Regions from separate parts of the Homo sapiens genome. Here region 2 is linked to region 1. The links come from fine-mapping of genetic effects on gene expression. A gene starts in region 1. The other region holds a variant in brackets. All regions are shown on one strand. Distances are from middle to middle.

Region 1 (8,514 bases):
TTTTTGTGGAGACAGGGTTTCACCACGTTAGCCAGGATGGTCTTGATCTCCTGACCTCGTGATCCGCCCACCTCAGCCTCCCAAAGTGCTGGGATTACAGGCGTGAGCCACCACGCGCGGCCCGTTTGTTTTTGAGACGAAGTTTCACTATTCTCACTCAGGCTGGAGTATAACGGCACGATCTCAGCTCACTGCAACCTCCGTCTCCCAGGTTCAAGTGATTCTTCTGGCTCAGCCTCACGAGTAGCTGGGATTATAGGCTAAATTTCACGATGTTAGCCAGACTGGTCTCGAACTCCTGACCTCAGGTGATCCACCCCCCTCGGCCTCCCAAAGTACTGGGATTACAGGCGTGAGCCACTGCACCCAACCCCCTCTGCTTTAAAAACCAGTACTGGTTCCACATGTCCTTCTGTGGGGCCCTCCATCTCACTCCATCTGCTATACAAAATCCTCCACAGCCTGTTCCAGACTTCCCCACCAACACTACGCAACAGGACGTGCCTTGTCTCTCTCTTTGAAATGCCCTTTCTCAACTTCTGCCCAGCCAGGCGCGGTGGCTCACACCTGCAATTCCAGCACTTTGGGAGGCTGAGGCAGGTGGAACACAAGGTCAGGCGTTCGAGACCAGCTTGGCCAACATGGTGAAACCCCGTCTCTATTAAAAATACAAAAAGTAGCCAGGCATTGCAGGTGTCTGTAATACCAGATACTCACGAGGCTGAGGCACAGAATTGCTTGAACCCAAGAGGCAGGGGTTTTGTTGAGCCGAGATCCCACCACTGCACTCCAGTCAGGGTGACAGAGTGAGACTCCATCTCCTAAAAAAGAAAAAAAAAAAGAGGCTGGGCGCAGTGGCTCACATCTATAATTCCAGCACTTTGGAAGGCGCAAGCAGGCGGATCATTTGAGGTCAGGAGTTCAAGAGCAACCCGGCCAACATATTGAAACCCCATCTCTACTAAAATATATATATATAAACTAGCGAGGCGTGGTAGTGGACACCTGTAATCCCAGCTACCCGGGAGACTGAGGCAGAACAGCTGGAACCCAGGAGATGGAAGTTGCAGTGAGCCGACACAACACCAGTGTCCAGAATTTGTAGGGGGTCTCACTGACTTTAAGAATGAAGCCATGGACCCTCACAGCAAGTGTTACAGTTCTTAAAGGCAGCATATCCGGAGTTTGTTCCTTCTGACGTTCGGATGTGTTCAGAGTTTCTTCCTTCTGGTGGGTTCGTGGTCTCGCTAGCTCAAGAGTGAAGCTGCAGGCCTTTGCGGTGTTACCCCCCTTAAGGCCGTGTCTCCGAAGTTATTCATTCTTCTTAGTGGGTTCGTGGTTTCACTGGCTTCAGGAGTGAACCTGCAGACCTTCCCAGCGAGTACTACAGCTCATAAAGGCAGTGTAGACCCAAAAAAGGAGCAGCAGCAAGATTTAACCGCAAAAAACAAAAGAACAAAAGGTCTACCTAACAGAAGAGTACCCCAGTGCATTGCAATTGCCGGTTCAGGCAGCCTGCTTTTATTCTCTAATCGGCCCCACCCACATCCTGCTGATTGGTTCATTTTACAGAGAGCCGATTGGTCCATTTTACAGAGAGCTGATTGGTCTGTTTTGGCAGGGTGCTGATTGGTGCATTTACAATCCGTGAGCTAGACACAAAAGTTCTCCACGTCCCCACTAGATTAGCTAGATACAGAGTGTAGACACAAAGGTTCTCCAAGTCCCCACCAGAGTAGCTAGATACAGAGTGTGGATTGGTGCATTCACAAACCCTGAGCTAGACACAGGGTGCTGATTGGTGTGTTTACAAACCTTGAGCTAGATACAGAGTGCCGATTGGTGTATTTACAATCCCTTAGCTAGACATAAAGGTTCTCCAAGTCCCCACCAGACTCAGGAGCCCATTTGGCTTCACCCAGTGGATCCCGCTTGGGGGCCGCAGGTGGAGCTGCCTGCCAGTCCGCATGTGCTTGCACTCCTCAGCCCTTGGGTGGTCGATGGGACTGGGTGCCTTGGAGCAGGGGGCGGTGCTCGTCGGAGAGGCTCGGGCCGCACAGGAGCCCACGGAGGGGGAGGGGAGGCTCAGGCATGGCGGGCTGCAGGTCCCGAGCCCTGCCCCGAGGGAAGGCAGCTAAGGCCCAGCGAAAAATTGAGCACAGCAGCTGCTGGCCCAGGTGCTAAGCCCCTCACTGCCCGGGGCTGGCCGGCCACTCCGAGTGCGGAGCCGCCGAGCCCACGCCCACCCGGAACTCGCGCTGGCCCGCAAGCACCGCGCGCAGCCCGGGTTCCCGCCCGCGCCTCTCCCTCCACACCTCCCCGCAAGCTGAGGGAACCGGCTCCGGCCTTGGACAGCCCAGAAAGGAACTCCCACAGTGCAGTGGCGGGCTGAAGGGCTCCTCAAGCGCGGCCAGAGTGGGTTCCAAGGCCGAGGAGGCGCCGAGAGTGAGTGAGAGCTGCCAGCACGCTGTCACCTCTCACCACTGCACTCCAGCCTCGGCGACAGAGTGAGACTCTGTCTCAAAAAAAAAAAAAAAAACAAGAAAAAGAAAAAAAACTTCTGCGCATCCTTCAGAAAGACTGTCCTCATCTGTTCCCCGCTCTGGACAGCCTGCACTCCCTCCACCCCCGCCCGGGCCAATTGCTGTTAGCGGCTGTGTCTTCTGACTCAGACCTCTGTAATAGCATTCCTGGGTAATACCTGTGTATGTGTCTCCTCAACTATTCTAGGAAGGCAGGGGCCATGGTAATTCGTATGTGTCCCCATCGATTGGCATAGTGAATAGCATAACATAGGCACGGATGGATGGGTCCATAGATGGACCGATGGATGGGAGCGGGTGAGTGAGTGGATGTTAGCTGGGATGGGTGGGTGAAGGAGATGGATAGTCAGAGACATTGGAAAAGGGAACCCTGCGAAGATCAAATGCAAACACCAGGAGGAGCTGACACGCTGCAGTGAAGAAGCGGGAGGGCTGGCCACAGAAGGCGGCACGCTCCGAGTGGAGCAGGTGAGCGGCGCGCACTGAAGCAAGCATCACGCAATTGAACCGCTCACCCACGTGTTCCCCCCCACCATCCTCCTTCCCAGACGGCGCTTCAGCTCATTCCACCGCCCCCAGCAGCCCGGTCGCCCCCACCGCCACTGAGAAAGCAAACAAAGGGGAGGAGACCCCTGCAGGTTCTGGATGCCGAAGGCCAATCGAAAGACTTAGATCCCCTGGAAGGCGGGCGCCTTGGTTTAGGGGGGTCCAATCGGTTTCAAGGGGTTGCAGCGGGGCGGGGAGATGGGCGGGAGGAGTGGGAGCTGGCCCCGCGCGCGGGGGAGGGCTACCAGGCTGGGAAGGAGCGCGAAGGGCTGGGGGCGGAGCCAATGGCCCCGCGTGTCTGCTAGGAGAGGGCGGGCAGCGCCGCGGCGCGCGCGATCCGGCTGACGCATCTGGCCCCGGTTCCCCAAGACCAGAGCGGGGCCGGGAGGGAGGGGGAAGAGGCGAGAGCGCGGAGGGCGCGCGTGCGCATTGGCGCGGGGAGGAGCAGGGATCTTGGCAGCGGGCGAGGAGGCTGCGAGCGAGCCGCGAACCGAGCGGGCGGCGGGCGCGCGCACCATGGGGGAGAAACCCGGGACCAGGTAAGGGAGGTGGGGCCACGCGGCGGGGCATGGGCGGCGGCTCGGGGCGGGGGCTGGGACGGTCCCAGACGAGGGCGCAGCGGAGAGGATCTGGGGGCCGGACGCCTGGGTCCCTAGGGACAGCCATCCGGGGCCGCACGCGCAGGTCCTCGAGGATAATGAGGGTGGGGGGGAAATGCCCGGGCCCCTGCAGAAAGCGAGGCCTGAGGGGGATCAGAAAAACCGGTGTCGGGGTTCTCGCAGGGATGTGGGGCCAGACTACTGGGCTCTCCCGTGCAGGCTGCGATGCAGGGATGGAGGAAGGAGGAGCAGGTGGCTGGCCCCGAGGGGTCGTGTACGGGGAGGCTGGATGCCGGGACGGGGGGGATCCACTCCAGACTCGCGCCAAGCCAATGGAAAGCCTCCTATCCAATATCCCCCAGGTAGTCGCGCTGCCCACACCTGTCCCGAGGGCCGGGTGGCTCCTCACCCAAACTTCTACCTTCCCTTGGGTTGCCAGGAGCAACAGCTTCATCTTGGGGGAGCCGAGTGCGTGGCGACCCTCCCTGAAACTAGATCGTATCCCTCTCTCTGGGGGTGGGGGAGGCAGTATTCACCCTGGGCGCGCGTCCACTCCCCGGATGTTTTCTGTGCAATCGAGGCTCTTTCCTTCCACTGATACCCCGAGTTCTCTTTTTTGGTCTCTAGCAAAATCCACTTCCTGTTGTGACTCAACACCCCCAAGGGGCAAGGGGTGGATGCCTGAGTCGCAGGGGAGCGGGAGCAAAAGACGAAAAGGTTGGGGCTGTAGGCCTCAACTCAGAGGGTATCAGGAATAGGGAATTGGTCCTGAGCTCTGGCTTGCTCTGCAAAACATCATATCAACCCCACTTCCAACCTATAGAGTATGAGAACCCGGGTTTCTGAGCATCAAGTAGACGAGCATCAGAAAGAGATCATCAGAGAGATGATCCGTCTCCTGGATCAGGGTTTAAACATCCCAGAGAAAGGGGAAGTTGCTGACTTGTGGGAGGCCCCTGATTTCCGTCATGTGGTTCAGGGAGTGGGACGGATGGACCAAAGGAGACTGCTAACTTGGCACAATTTCCCTCACCCCCATGAAATTCTGGGCCACAGGAAATGGAGCGAATAGCAGGAAGTGTGAAAGGACATCTGCTTCAGCTACCCCTGCTCCCACTGGGCACCTCCCTGGTCATCCCCACACTCTGCCTCCTTGGCCAGCCTAGTATATGCACGCTGCTCCTCCCCAGCCTGGCAGGAGGTGGCTGGGTTAGGATCCAAAGGGCAAGTGCCTTGCAGCTGCTCCAGGGCAATTGCCCCAGAACCACACTCCAGTTGGCCCACTGATTGTGGCTGTCACAGCCCTGTGCCAGGGCTCCTAATGGGAGGACACCCTGGGACAAAGAGGAAAACCAGAAGCAAAGGGGAGGGAGAGCCTGGATGATGCCACGGCACTCAGCTCCCAAGTTGGGATGAAAGATAGGGTGTTTATTCTAGCGGCTACCATATCGATGTGTATTCTCTTTTATTGGTTAGGAATACCTGGGGCCCTCCATACCCTTTGCCTTACAACCTTTGGACAGCTTGGCTTTCTGGGAAGAAGGGGCAAGTGAAGTTGTAGCAGAAACTGGGCCTATGGTAGAAACCATGTAGGGCCAAAGGCCAGGGTCATTGCTCTCCTATATGCTCCAGCTGTCAGAGCTGGAGACCAGATGGAAAGATGGTTAGGTCTTACCCAGACACTGTGGTAACCTGCCCATTGGGGTCCTCTGGGAATGGGGTGGTAGACTTGGAAGAGGGATGGGCTAGTTGGCAGGATTTCACGTTTCTGCTATCTATCTGAGGATCCTTTCCAGGGATCACTGCTGAGGCAGAGTGGATTGGAAGGAGTAAGGTGGTGCTTCAAAGAACAGGCCCACAATTGGCCAGATCACTGGGGTTGCCAAACACTTCCTTACCCTCCCAGCAATGGGTGGAGTCCAGGCTTAAATTGTTTCAGCAACTGGAAAGCAAATAACCTTCAATTCAACAAACTATTTATGCCAACTGCAGAGACAGATAGTGTAATATTGATCGAGAGGATGGACTCGGAGCCAGACTGCCTTGGTTTCTATTAATTCCCACCATTTACTCCCTCTGTGACCTTGAAACACTTGACCTCTCTCTGCCTCAGTTTCCTCACCTGTAAAACAGAGATATTAGGAGCTCCATCACTGGGTGGTTTTATTTAATTTAATTAATTTATTTATTTATTTATTTTTTGAGACAAAGTCTTGCTCTGTCACCCAGGCTGGAGTGCAGTGGCTCAATCTCAGCTCACTGCAACCTAAGGCCGGGCACGGTGGCTCACGCCTGTAATCCCAGCACTTTGGGAGGCTGAGGCGGGTGGATCACCTGAGGTCAGAAGTTGGAGATCAGCCTGGCTAACATGGGGAAACCTCGTCTCTACTAAAAAAATACAAAATACAGGCCAGACACAGTGACTCAAGCCTGTAATCCCAGCCTTCTGGGAGGCTGAGGCGGGCGGATCACTAGAGGTCAGGAGTTTGAGATCAGCCTGGCCAACATGGGGAAACCCCATCTATACTAAAAATATAAAAATTAGCGGCCGGGCGTGGTGGCTCACGCCTGTAATCCCAGCACTTTGGGAGGCTGAGACAGGTGGATCACGAGGTCGGGAGATTGAGACCATCCTGACTAACACAGTGAAACCCCATCTCTACTAAAAATACCAAAATTCGCCGGGCGTGGTGGTGGGTGCCTGTAGTCCCAGCTACTCGGGAGGCTGAGGCAGGAGAATGGCGTGAACCCGGGAGGCAGAGGTCGCAGTGAGCCGAGATCGCACCACTGCACTCCAGCCTGGGCGACAGAGTGAGACTCCGTTTCAAAAAAAAAATTAGCCAGGCATGATGGCAGGCACCTCTAATCCCAGCTACTCAGGAAGCTGAGGCATGAGAATCGCTTGAACCCAGGAGGTGGAGGTTGCAGTGAGCTGACAGCGTGCCACTCTACTCCAGCCTTGGTGATAGAGTGAGACTCCATCTCCAAAAAAAAAAAAAAAATACAAAACATAGCCGGGCATGGTGGCTCACTCCTGTAATCCCAGCTACTCAGGAGGCTGAAGCAGGAGAATCACTTAAACCTGGGAGGCGGAGGTTGCAGTGAGCTGAGATCGCACCACTGCACTCCAGCCTGGGCAACAGAGTGAGACTCTGTCTCAAAAAACAGAGTATTACAAGAGATGACACATTTGAAACACTTGGAACAGTGCTGGGCATGGAGTAGTCACTCTGAAATGTTAGCAGCATTACCATCTTCATGATATGGCTGGCATTGTGCTGGAGATGCCTAAATTAATAAGGCCTCTGAGGCTCACAGTCTGAGGAGGGAGGGAGCTAACTATCCTTGTGTGCTACCACACCACAAGTAAAACATAAACAAGGTGTGACAGGAACCCAAAACAAGGAGCGACCAGGGTCTGGGCTGGGTCAGCTTCCTAAAGGCTGGGCCTTAAAAGACAAATAGGCTTTTAAGCTCTTGAGGTCGGAGTTGGGGACAGTTGGAGGTGAGTAGAGTCGAACTTGGGTAGGGCCTGTGGTAGAAACTATCTGAGGGCCAAAGGCCAGGGTCATTGCTCTCCTATATGCTCCAGCTGTCAGAGCTGTAGACCAGATGGAAAGATGGTTAGGTCTTATCCAGACACTGTGGCTACCTGCCCATTCGGGTCCTCTGGGAAGAGCCTGGGTGGTTCCTAGGGCAACCAGTGGCCATTACTGGGGAGGGAAGGGGACGAATGAGGGTGGACAAGACAAGGGGCATTTCCCCTTGCCACCACGTTAGAAATAGGAAGGACCTTCCGGGAAGAAGGGTTCCCCTTGCCACCACGTTAGAAATAGGAAGGACCTTCCGGGAAGAAGGGTTCCCCTTGCCACCACGTTAGAAATAGGAAGGACCTTCCGGGAAGAAGGGTTCCCCTTGCCACCACGTTAGAAATAGGAAGGACCTTCCGGGAAGAAGGGTTCCCCTTGCCACCACGTTAGAAATAGGAAGGACCTTCCGGGAAGAAGGGTTCCCCTTGCCACCACGTTAGAAATAGGAAGGACCTTCCGGGAAGAAGGGGAAAGGGGCAGAGCTGGGCAAAGCCCCACAGCCTCAGGCAGGAGGCCTGGGTGAGCACTGCTTCTCAGGCCTGGGAGGGAGAGGGTCCTGGTGTGGGGTCCCTGCTGAGTCTGAGGGAGGCAGTGGGGTTTCCCTTTCTGTTTTGTTAGGGTCTTCAAGAAGTCGAGCCCTAACTGCAAGGTGAGTCTCCACAGCACTTACCCTTTTGACCCTCCCTGGGCCCCAACAAAGCCCAGCCTTCCCCTAGACGATCCCCAACCTACCCAAAGATGATCCCCAACCCCTAGCTCCCCACTTCCTGTGACAGCTAAGCGCCGACTTCCTTCCCTCCTGAAGCCCCTTGCCGCAGAGGCTGCTCAGCCTGAGCCAGCCACAGGGCTGGGTGGGGCAGGCTTGGGTCCCCAAGCAAGACCACAGAGGAGGAGGCCAAAAGCAAGCCATGTGCCTGTAGCCCTCCTAGGAGCCAACCCAAGGTGCGTGGGGCTGGGAAAACCTAACAGCCCCCGGGCTATGGCCTATTTATCCTAGAGCCCCTTGAGGGGACCTAGTGAGGGTGGCAGCTGCTCTCTAGCTGGCTGGTTGGGCTGAGTTCTCCCCGAGGATCCAAACACACACACACACAGACACACACACACATACACACATACACACACACCTGGCTGGTTGGGCTGAGTCCTCCCTGAGGATGCAAACACACACACACGGACACACACACACACACACGGACACACACAAACACACCTCGCTGGTTGGGCTGAGTCCTCCCT
Region 2 (8,000 bases), 36 kb before region 1:
ACACCAATGTCAGTTGTTCCTCTCTGGATCGTCAAAAAGAGGACAGCTATGGAGACATCTGGGGAATACTATGGACACCCTGAAAAGCCCAGCAGACACTTGAGCTTCTGGCTGGGGACCCAGGTGTGGCAAAAGGCAGAAGCAGCAGTCGCTATCTAAGGACATAACTTTATTGGAAACAAAGAGTGGGGTGCAGAAGATGGCTAGGAGTCAGGCTCTGTGGGAGGTGGTGGCTTCTCATCATCAGGGGGACAATCGATGAAGTCGGCCAGCATGGCAGCTGTGTCATCCTGCTCCTTTTAGGCACAAAGATACAAGATTCAGAATAGTCACACACACATACACAGAAGAATGGTTCAGGCTGGGCAAACCTCTCCTAAGAGAAGCAGCTGCCACCCCTTCTCCCGCCAGCCCCACCTTCTCGCCCAAGGAACCTTCCCTGCCTGGCCTCTCACCTTTTCCTGGAGAGCTTCGGCCTCTGTCTCTGTCTCCATCTCTTCTTCTGCAGGTGTCTCTGGTGGGGGCTGCACCTTGTCACTCCCATCCTCAGTCTCCTCTTCCAACAGGGTTGGGGGAGCAGAGGGCTCTTCTTCAACAAGCTCCTGGGGAGGGGGCCCTGCCGCAGGGCTTTCCCCTTCCCTCTCCACCTCTCCCTGGGAGGGGAGCGCTTCAGGGGCCAGGGTGGGAGCTGTGTCAGCCCCACGCTCCTCCTCCGTCCCTGGCTCCTCCACTTCCAAAAGCAGCCCGGGTTCAGGTTCGGGTTCTGGCTGCACCTTTGGGGGAGACTCAGGGGGAGGCAGAGCTGGAGGCAGGGTTGGGGGTGGAGGTGCACCTTCTTCTACCTCCCCTCCTGCTGTGCCAAACTCCAGGTCTTCCACCTCTTCCAGTTCTTCTTCCTCCTCCTCATCCTCCTCTTCTTCTTCTTCCTCTAACTCACCTTCTTCTTCCTCAAATTCTTCCTCAAACTCTTCTTCCTCCTCTTCTTCCTCTTCAAAATATTCCTCTTCATCCTCTTCCTCTTCCTCAAAGTCTTCCTCCTCTTCCTCTTCTTCCTCTTCTTCTTCTTCCTCTTCTTCCTCTTCCTCCTCCTCTTCATCACTGCTGTTGATATTAATAACTGTCAAATCCTCTTCCAGGGCTGGGGGTCCTCCCCCACCAGGAGTCCCTTCAGGGACCAACTGGGGTGGAGGGAGCGTCACAGGACCAGGAACAGGCGGCGGCGGAGGTGGGGGTGGCGGGAGAGGCCCTGGGGCTGCAGGAAGTTCTTCAGGCTCCTCCTTCGCTGGCACAGGAGGGGAGGCTGTTGGTGGCCCAGTGGGGGCTATAGGGGGTGGTGTGGCACCTGAGGGTGGTGGGGGTGGCAGGGGGGGAAGCCCCTCGGGCACGATCACCACGCTGTCATCAGAGTCACTTTCCAAGGAGATCTCCACATCAGATGCCTCCTCCTTGTCATAGTGGACAAAGGCTGGTCTGGGCACTCTCCCCCCAAAAGTTTCATCTGGGGGTATAGTAGGTGGGGGAGTCCCACTAGGGGCAAGGATGGGGTCCTCATTTGAGCCTGCCCGGTGGTTCTCAGGGCCAGGAAGAAGCCGGGGAGGGACAGACACTAGGCCTGGGACAGAAAGGCCTAGGTGGTTGGCTGTGGTGGGAGGTCCAGGGCGTGCCGAGGGCACAGGGCCTGCTGAGGGCATGGGGCCTGCTGAAGGCATGGGGCCTGCTGAGGGCATGGAGCCCACTGAGGGCATGGGGCCCGGAGGATGGAACGGTGGGGCCCTGAAGGGCGATGGGGCCTCAGGAGGGGGAACTGGAGCAGGTGTGGGGCAGGTGGGGCCCATGGGCTGCAGGGGAGGAACCCGGGGGTGGGTCAGAGCAGCACAGGTCACCAGTGCTTCTGAGCAGAAAGAGGAGACCTGAGGAAAGAAGAAAGGGCAAGTGTGAGCACCAGAAATACTGGGAGTCTCTTGGAAACAAGAGACTCCAGGAACCAAAGAGGGGCTTGGCCCATCACAGTTACCTCAAGGCTATCTTCTCGCTGGCCGAGGGAGAAGGCTTGCAGGGCACAGGCAAGAGGAGGTGGGCAGCGAGGAGACGGGGCCAGCAGCAGCGCCAGCAGCAGGCAGTAGAGTTCACGGCGGCAGCGGGAGCTCGTGTACGGGGAGCTGCCTAGGACCTCACCCTGCTGTACACCCATGACCAGGGGGAGGACCAGGTCATGCAGTCTCTGAAAAGGACAGAGCACACCTGGAAACATCCCCAAGACCACCCAACCCTTCTCCAGAGCCTACTCCCAGGTCGGAATGGACCCACCTCTGGGCCACACCCCCCAATGTGTACAGAGCAGGGGCCCCTTCCCCTATCTCCACGGAGACGAGGCTCCACTAACCCTGTGAGTCTCCTCCTTGATGAGAGGCCCACACATGAGGATGGTCCGGCTGAGGCCTGGGGAAGAAGAATGGTGTGTAAAGGGTAGGCTCCCAACAGACTGACGGCAAGGGCTTCTGAAGCATACAGCCCAAAATGGGCATCAACTCTGCCACTGCCTATCTTGGCCAAGTCATTTAACTTCTCAACTAGAAAATGGGGATCATAAAAGTACCTCTACTGTATAGGGCCACTGACGGTATTTAATTGAGACAATGTAAGTAAAAAATTATAAATTTTATAATTTTGCATTTATATATTTGGGAACAATCGGTTCTCCCCTTCCCATGGGATGGGGTGGCAGGCAGTGAAATATATGGGACCCAGAGGAAAGGCATCCATTAACTGCACAGTATCCGACTAGCAACCTGTGGACAGGTCAGTGGTTACGGTGAGAGCAGGGAGCTCCCCCAGGCAGCCTGCCCTTGGAAGAATGTCAGCTTCACAGGGAGGAGCCTTCCCCGCATGCTGGAACTCTGCCTGATAGAAAGTGGATACACCAAGGACGTGCTGAACGCCGGAGGAAGCGAAGGCCTTGGAGGGGCTGTGTCGGCTACCAGAGCTCCCGGTCTAACCGCAGGACCCGAGGCCGCCTGCAGC[C/T]CTGGCAACAGGGCGGCTGCTTGGGTGCCTCCTCCTGGCCTCTCTGCGGGCTTCCGCCTGGCTCTGCATTTCACAGGCACCTTCCCCTTCACCTGCTGTTTGGGGGATCACTTATCGCAGTGGACGAAGGCTGGTCTAGGCACTCTCCCCACAAAAGTTTCACCTAAGGGTATAGTAGGTAGGGGAGTCCCACTAGGGGAAAGGATGGGGTCCCGTTTGAGCCCCAGTGGTCCAGGGCACAGGCCTCACCCACCTCTGAGTGCAGCCGCACACACGTCGCTGTTGGCATTGCTATCCCCTTTCCGGTGGCTTGGCGGGGCCATAGCTTCCCCCACATCCAGCTTTAGCTTCTTGGGGGCGCTAGGCTTCCCAGTCTGCAAACTCCCATCAGGGCTCCCCCGCGGGCTACGCAGCTGGAGGCAGAGAAAACATAAATCACATCCACAGGCAAACAACAAGGCAAGACAGCCACAGCAGACAGTGTTTCCTGAGCAGGCACACTTGGTCAAAGGGCACAGGATGAGTCCTAAGGCGGAGCTGAGGCCTCCTCACCTTAAGGGCATCAGCTGGCGGGGAGATGTCGCTGAGCAGGTGGGTGAGCAGGGCCTCTCCAGAGGCTCCTCCCTGAAGCATTCCCGCCGAGGCCCCACAAACCTGCACCCACAGCTCTAATATCGCATACACCTTGGTCCGAACCGTGCTGTGTCATGAGCAAAGATGGCAGTTATGAATGGGGGGTCAACATGCCAGAAGCCCCAGCCCACCTGCACCCCCTCACCCCCCTCTCCTCTTTATTCCCTTCCTGCCTTCCTGGATGGTCACCTGTAAGGCCTCTCCTGGCCTGGAGAGAGGGAATCTCTACCGATGCTCCAGGAATTGAGGACCTGGGGAAGCAGGCGGCCGATCAGGATCCCAAAGCGCAAGAGCCGGCTTCCACACCTGGGGCAGAGAAGGAATGGTGACCCTCGTTTCTGGCACGCCCTATCCCTTCACCACAGCCAGCCCAATCCCACTCACGCGAGGATGAGTGCAGACAGCAGGTCCAAGGCCTCAAGGTGGATAGAGGGCAGCAGCAGCAGCCGCAGGGGACCATCTCCATGCAAGCTCTGGAGAAAAAAGGGGCAGAGATAAAGAGTGGAGGAAGAAAGTGAGAGCCAGAGAGAGACAGAAACAGGGAATGACCATTTACATATGTACACATAGGTAAGAAACCCAACCCCTGATCTCAGCTCTCCCAACAAAATCAAACCCCTATCCTCTAAAATAGACCCTGGATGGAAGGTAAGAAGGATGGCTGGGCCTCTCAGCAATGACTCAGCTGATCCCCAAATTCACCCTCCCCCAAGGAAGCATTTGCTACACTCTGACACTGTGCTCCTGTGTCACGACACATAGGAAGTGATGTTATTTGGACAAAAGTAGGAAGCTCTCTGGGACGACTCCAGGATGACACTGTTTGGGGAGACTCAGGTCCCCAGTACTTTCCTGGTTGCCTGGTATCCTGAGCAAGGGCTCTGAAGAGATGACAAATCCCACTTACAATATTCTTGCTACTGACGCTGAGGGTCCGGCAGATGAAATCCAGGATTTCCTGCACAGGGACGGACACGGGAGCTCCAAACTCAGAGCTAAAGAGAATCAGAGCAGGGAGACCTTCAGAGCAGGCTCCCTGGCATAACTCCCACACCCACCTTCATCTCCTTTCTCCTGATGAAGGCGACACTCCCTCATCAATCCCTCCTGCTCCACGCCTCCGCTCCCTCCAATACCCACACACACCTGAGCATGAGCCCTAGGCAGCGGGCCAGTCCCGAAAACCTCTGCCGAAGCTGGAGAAGGACATGGGCATCACCATCTTCTGAGGACAGCAGCATCTCCACCCCAGGGCCTTCATTCTGCACAGGAGCTGGCAGAAGCACAACTACCCTGTACACTGTCTTTCTTCCATCCCCTCCTCTGTCATTTCTGGTGGACGACCTGCCTGTATTCTAACCCATTTTCCCCAAAAACCAACTGCCCCATGTCTCTGGGCTCCCCTCCTGTTCCTTCCTGCCACGCTTCCTCACTATTGTTCCACTAACTAGCAGCCCTGGTCCCTACCAGTCTCTGCTCCCTCGTACAGGGCCCCCAGCAGGGTGTGCAGTGAGGCCAGCAGACTGTGTAGCTCCTGCTCCCAGCTCTCGGTGTGCTTCAGGCCTTGGGAAAAGCCAGCCCCTAAAGAGGGCAGCCGGGAATAACACTCACAGGCCAACTGCGGGAGAAAGGACAGAAACCTGGTCAGATGGGAATCCAGCCCAGCCACAGAACCCCCAGCCCCACTGACACCCAAAAGAGATGGAGATCAGAGAGAGCTCTGAGGGAAACCTGAGATGGGACAATGAGGCCGAAGGACACAGATGGGCATATGAAGGCAGGACAGAAAAGCTAGAGGAGGAGCAGCAAGAGACAATCCAGGCTCAGATCCCCGGGCTCTCCCTCTCCCTCCCTGCCCTTTACCTGTTGGAGCTGAGGGCTCAAGGCATCCACCCTAGACAGAAAAAATGAGGCCAGCTTGCCCTGGATGTGGAGGAAAAAAGGAAGAGGCCAGTGAGCCAGCTCTGAGAGCCAGAGATGTACATCCCATCCGTTCCCAGCAGCAGACTCTAAGCCCAGGTCTCTTTTTCCTGTAGACACAAGAAGCAAAGCCCTCTATGGGGCATCAACACCGGGCACGGACATGCTTTCATGGTAAAAGACTCCTCAACGCCAGCTCTGGTCCTCGGCTTCCTGCTTGGGAGCGAAAAGGGCCTGGCCCTGTCCCAGAGACAGCTGGGCTTCCTCCTTGACAGTTTTTGCAAAATTTTTCCCTCAAGCCAAAAGGACATAGTACTAAAAAACAGTCTCCACACTCCAACTCTCTACCAGCTCACACACAAAAACGAGGGTCCAAGCTGGAAGTTAAGACACTAACCAGAGGTATGAGGGCAGGACAAGGTCAAAAAAGAAGGCTGCTAGAGCAGAAGTAAGGCAGCAAGTCTCGGAGTAGCAATCTGTCATTCGGCACTTTCTCTGCCTGCTGTGTGAAGGTGCTAGGGCAGGAGTGTTTAACCTGAGAACCACAATTTAGTTGGATATACAATCATAGGGGGCCTGTGATCATGGATGGGGAAAAAAATTACTCCCACTAGCCTATTTGTAAAATGTAGTGTTTCCTTCACTTATAAATGCAGACAAATAGCCACAGTAGTATCAGCAGTACCTGTGACTGTCACTAATAGAATCATTTTCATGTCACATTATAATTGTAACACATCCTGAAATATCATTCACATGCATCACTAATTTGCAATTATAGTCGTTGTAAGACCTGCTTCTAGATCTTATTACTTAACATGTCAATAAAAAAGCACAGGCTGGGTGCAGTAGCTCACGCCTGTAATCCAGGCACTTTGGGAGGTCAAGGCAGGCGGATCACTTGAGCCAAGGAGTTTGAGACCAGTCTGGGCAACATGGAGAAACCCTATCTCTACTAAAAATACAAAAACTTAGCCGGGTGTGGTGGCGCATGCCTGTAGTCCCAGCTACTTGGGAGGCTGAGGTGGGAGGACCACCCAAGCCCAGAACCGAGATCATGCCAGTCAGTGTACTCTAGCCTGGGTGATGAGAGTGAGACCCTGTCTCAAAAAGAAAAAAAAAAAGGCCAGGCACGGTGGCTCATACCTGTAATCCCAGCACTTTGGGAGGCTGAGGTGAGCAGATCACGAGGTCAGGAGTTCAAGACCAGCCTGGCCAACATGGTGAAACCCCATCTCTACTAAAAGTACAAAAATTAGCTGGGCACAGTGGTGGGCACCTGTAATCCCAGCTACTTGGGAGGCTGAGGCAGGAGAATTGCTTGAACCCAGGAGGCGGAGGTTGCAGTGAGCCGAGATCACGCCACTGCACTCTAGCCTGGGTGACAGAGCAAGACTCTGTCTCAGAAAAAAAAAAGAATTAGTAAGGATAACAAGACAAGCATATGGAAAAACAAGAATCTGGAGCCAACACTGGCAACATACAGAGAAGGGGAAAGAGCAGGCTCACGCTTTCCCCGAGACATCCTAGTGGTGCACACCTGTAGTCCTAGCTACTTGGGAGACTGACGTGGGAGGATCACTTGAGCCCAGGAGTTCAAGGTTACAGTGAGCTACAATCTTAACACTGCACTCCTGGGTCACAGAGCGAGACCCTATCTCCAAAAACGGCTCAAAAAGCTGGACTGAAGCCAACAGAAGTCTGCTTATGTGACTGCAATAAAGCAGTGTACGGTGAAGCGACACGGCTCTAACCACAGGTTACCCTGGCTGACCCACAAAGCAAACCAAAGCAATGACTCGCTTGGAACAGTTCACTCAAAACGCGCACACACACAGCATGTCCTGGGGCTCTCTCAAGAGTAGGTCAGTCTTCCCACCCATTCCGAGGAACTGCTCATCAATGTGGCAAGGACGAGGAAGTGAGTTCAAGTCTCTGCAGGAATTGACCTCATGGACTCAGAATGCTTGATTCACATTACTTGGGAGTAGTAATCCTGAGCTTGGAGTCTACAATTACCCTGAGAGTATCCGGGGAATGTAACAGAAAACACAGACACTTCAAAACGGCAGTTATCAGTTTTCCTAAGTACTAGTCTGCGAGATTTTCCAAGTGCAAATTGCCCCTGGAGCCTCTGCATGACAGATTCTTATCTGAAGTGCTGGCAACCGACAAAGCCAAAACCCTCAACACCCTCAACAGAGGGAAGTTCTCCAGATGACCTTTTTTTTTTTTGAGACAGGGTCTCACTCTGTTACCCAGGCTAGAGTGCAGTGCCACGATCTCAGCTCACTGCACCCTCTGCCTCCCAGCTTCAGGGGATCTCCTGCCTCAATGTTCTAAGTAGCTGGAACCACAGGCACACACCACCACACCCAGCTAATTTTTTTGTATTTTTGGTAGAGGTAGGGTTTCACCATGTTGGC

The links.
Region 2: its variant is fine-mapped to the expression of ARRB2 in whole blood (INTERVAL, PIP 0.90).

Annotation. Positions count from the first base shown.
Region 1 is chr17:4,707,117-4,715,630 of GRCh38, forward strand. ARRB2 (arrestin beta 2) reads left to right here and starts at 3,516. Exons shown (of 15, transcript NM_004313.4): 1 at 3,516-3,628; 2 at 7,897-7,927. The coding sequence starts at 3,606. RefSeq lists enhancers at 3,134-3,303, 7,946-8,015 and a silencer at 3,233-3,762.
Region 2 is chr17:4,671,236-4,679,235 of GRCh38, forward strand. PELP1 (proline, glutamate and leucine rich protein 1) reads right to left here. Exons shown (of 17, transcript NM_014389.3): 6 at 5,518-5,577; 7 at 5,122-5,272; 8 at 4,801-4,927; 9 at 4,562-4,649; 10 at 4,039-4,127; 11 at 3,844-3,960; 12 at 3,574-3,721; 13 at 3,275-3,434; 14 at 2,384-2,439; 15 at 2,015-2,221; 16 at 456-1,910; 17 at 1-296. The coding sequence ends at 204. Among named protein-coding and RNA genes, the nearest start is that of PELP1, 29 kb to the right of the region's middle. The variant C/T (reference allele first, on the strand shown) is at 3,022.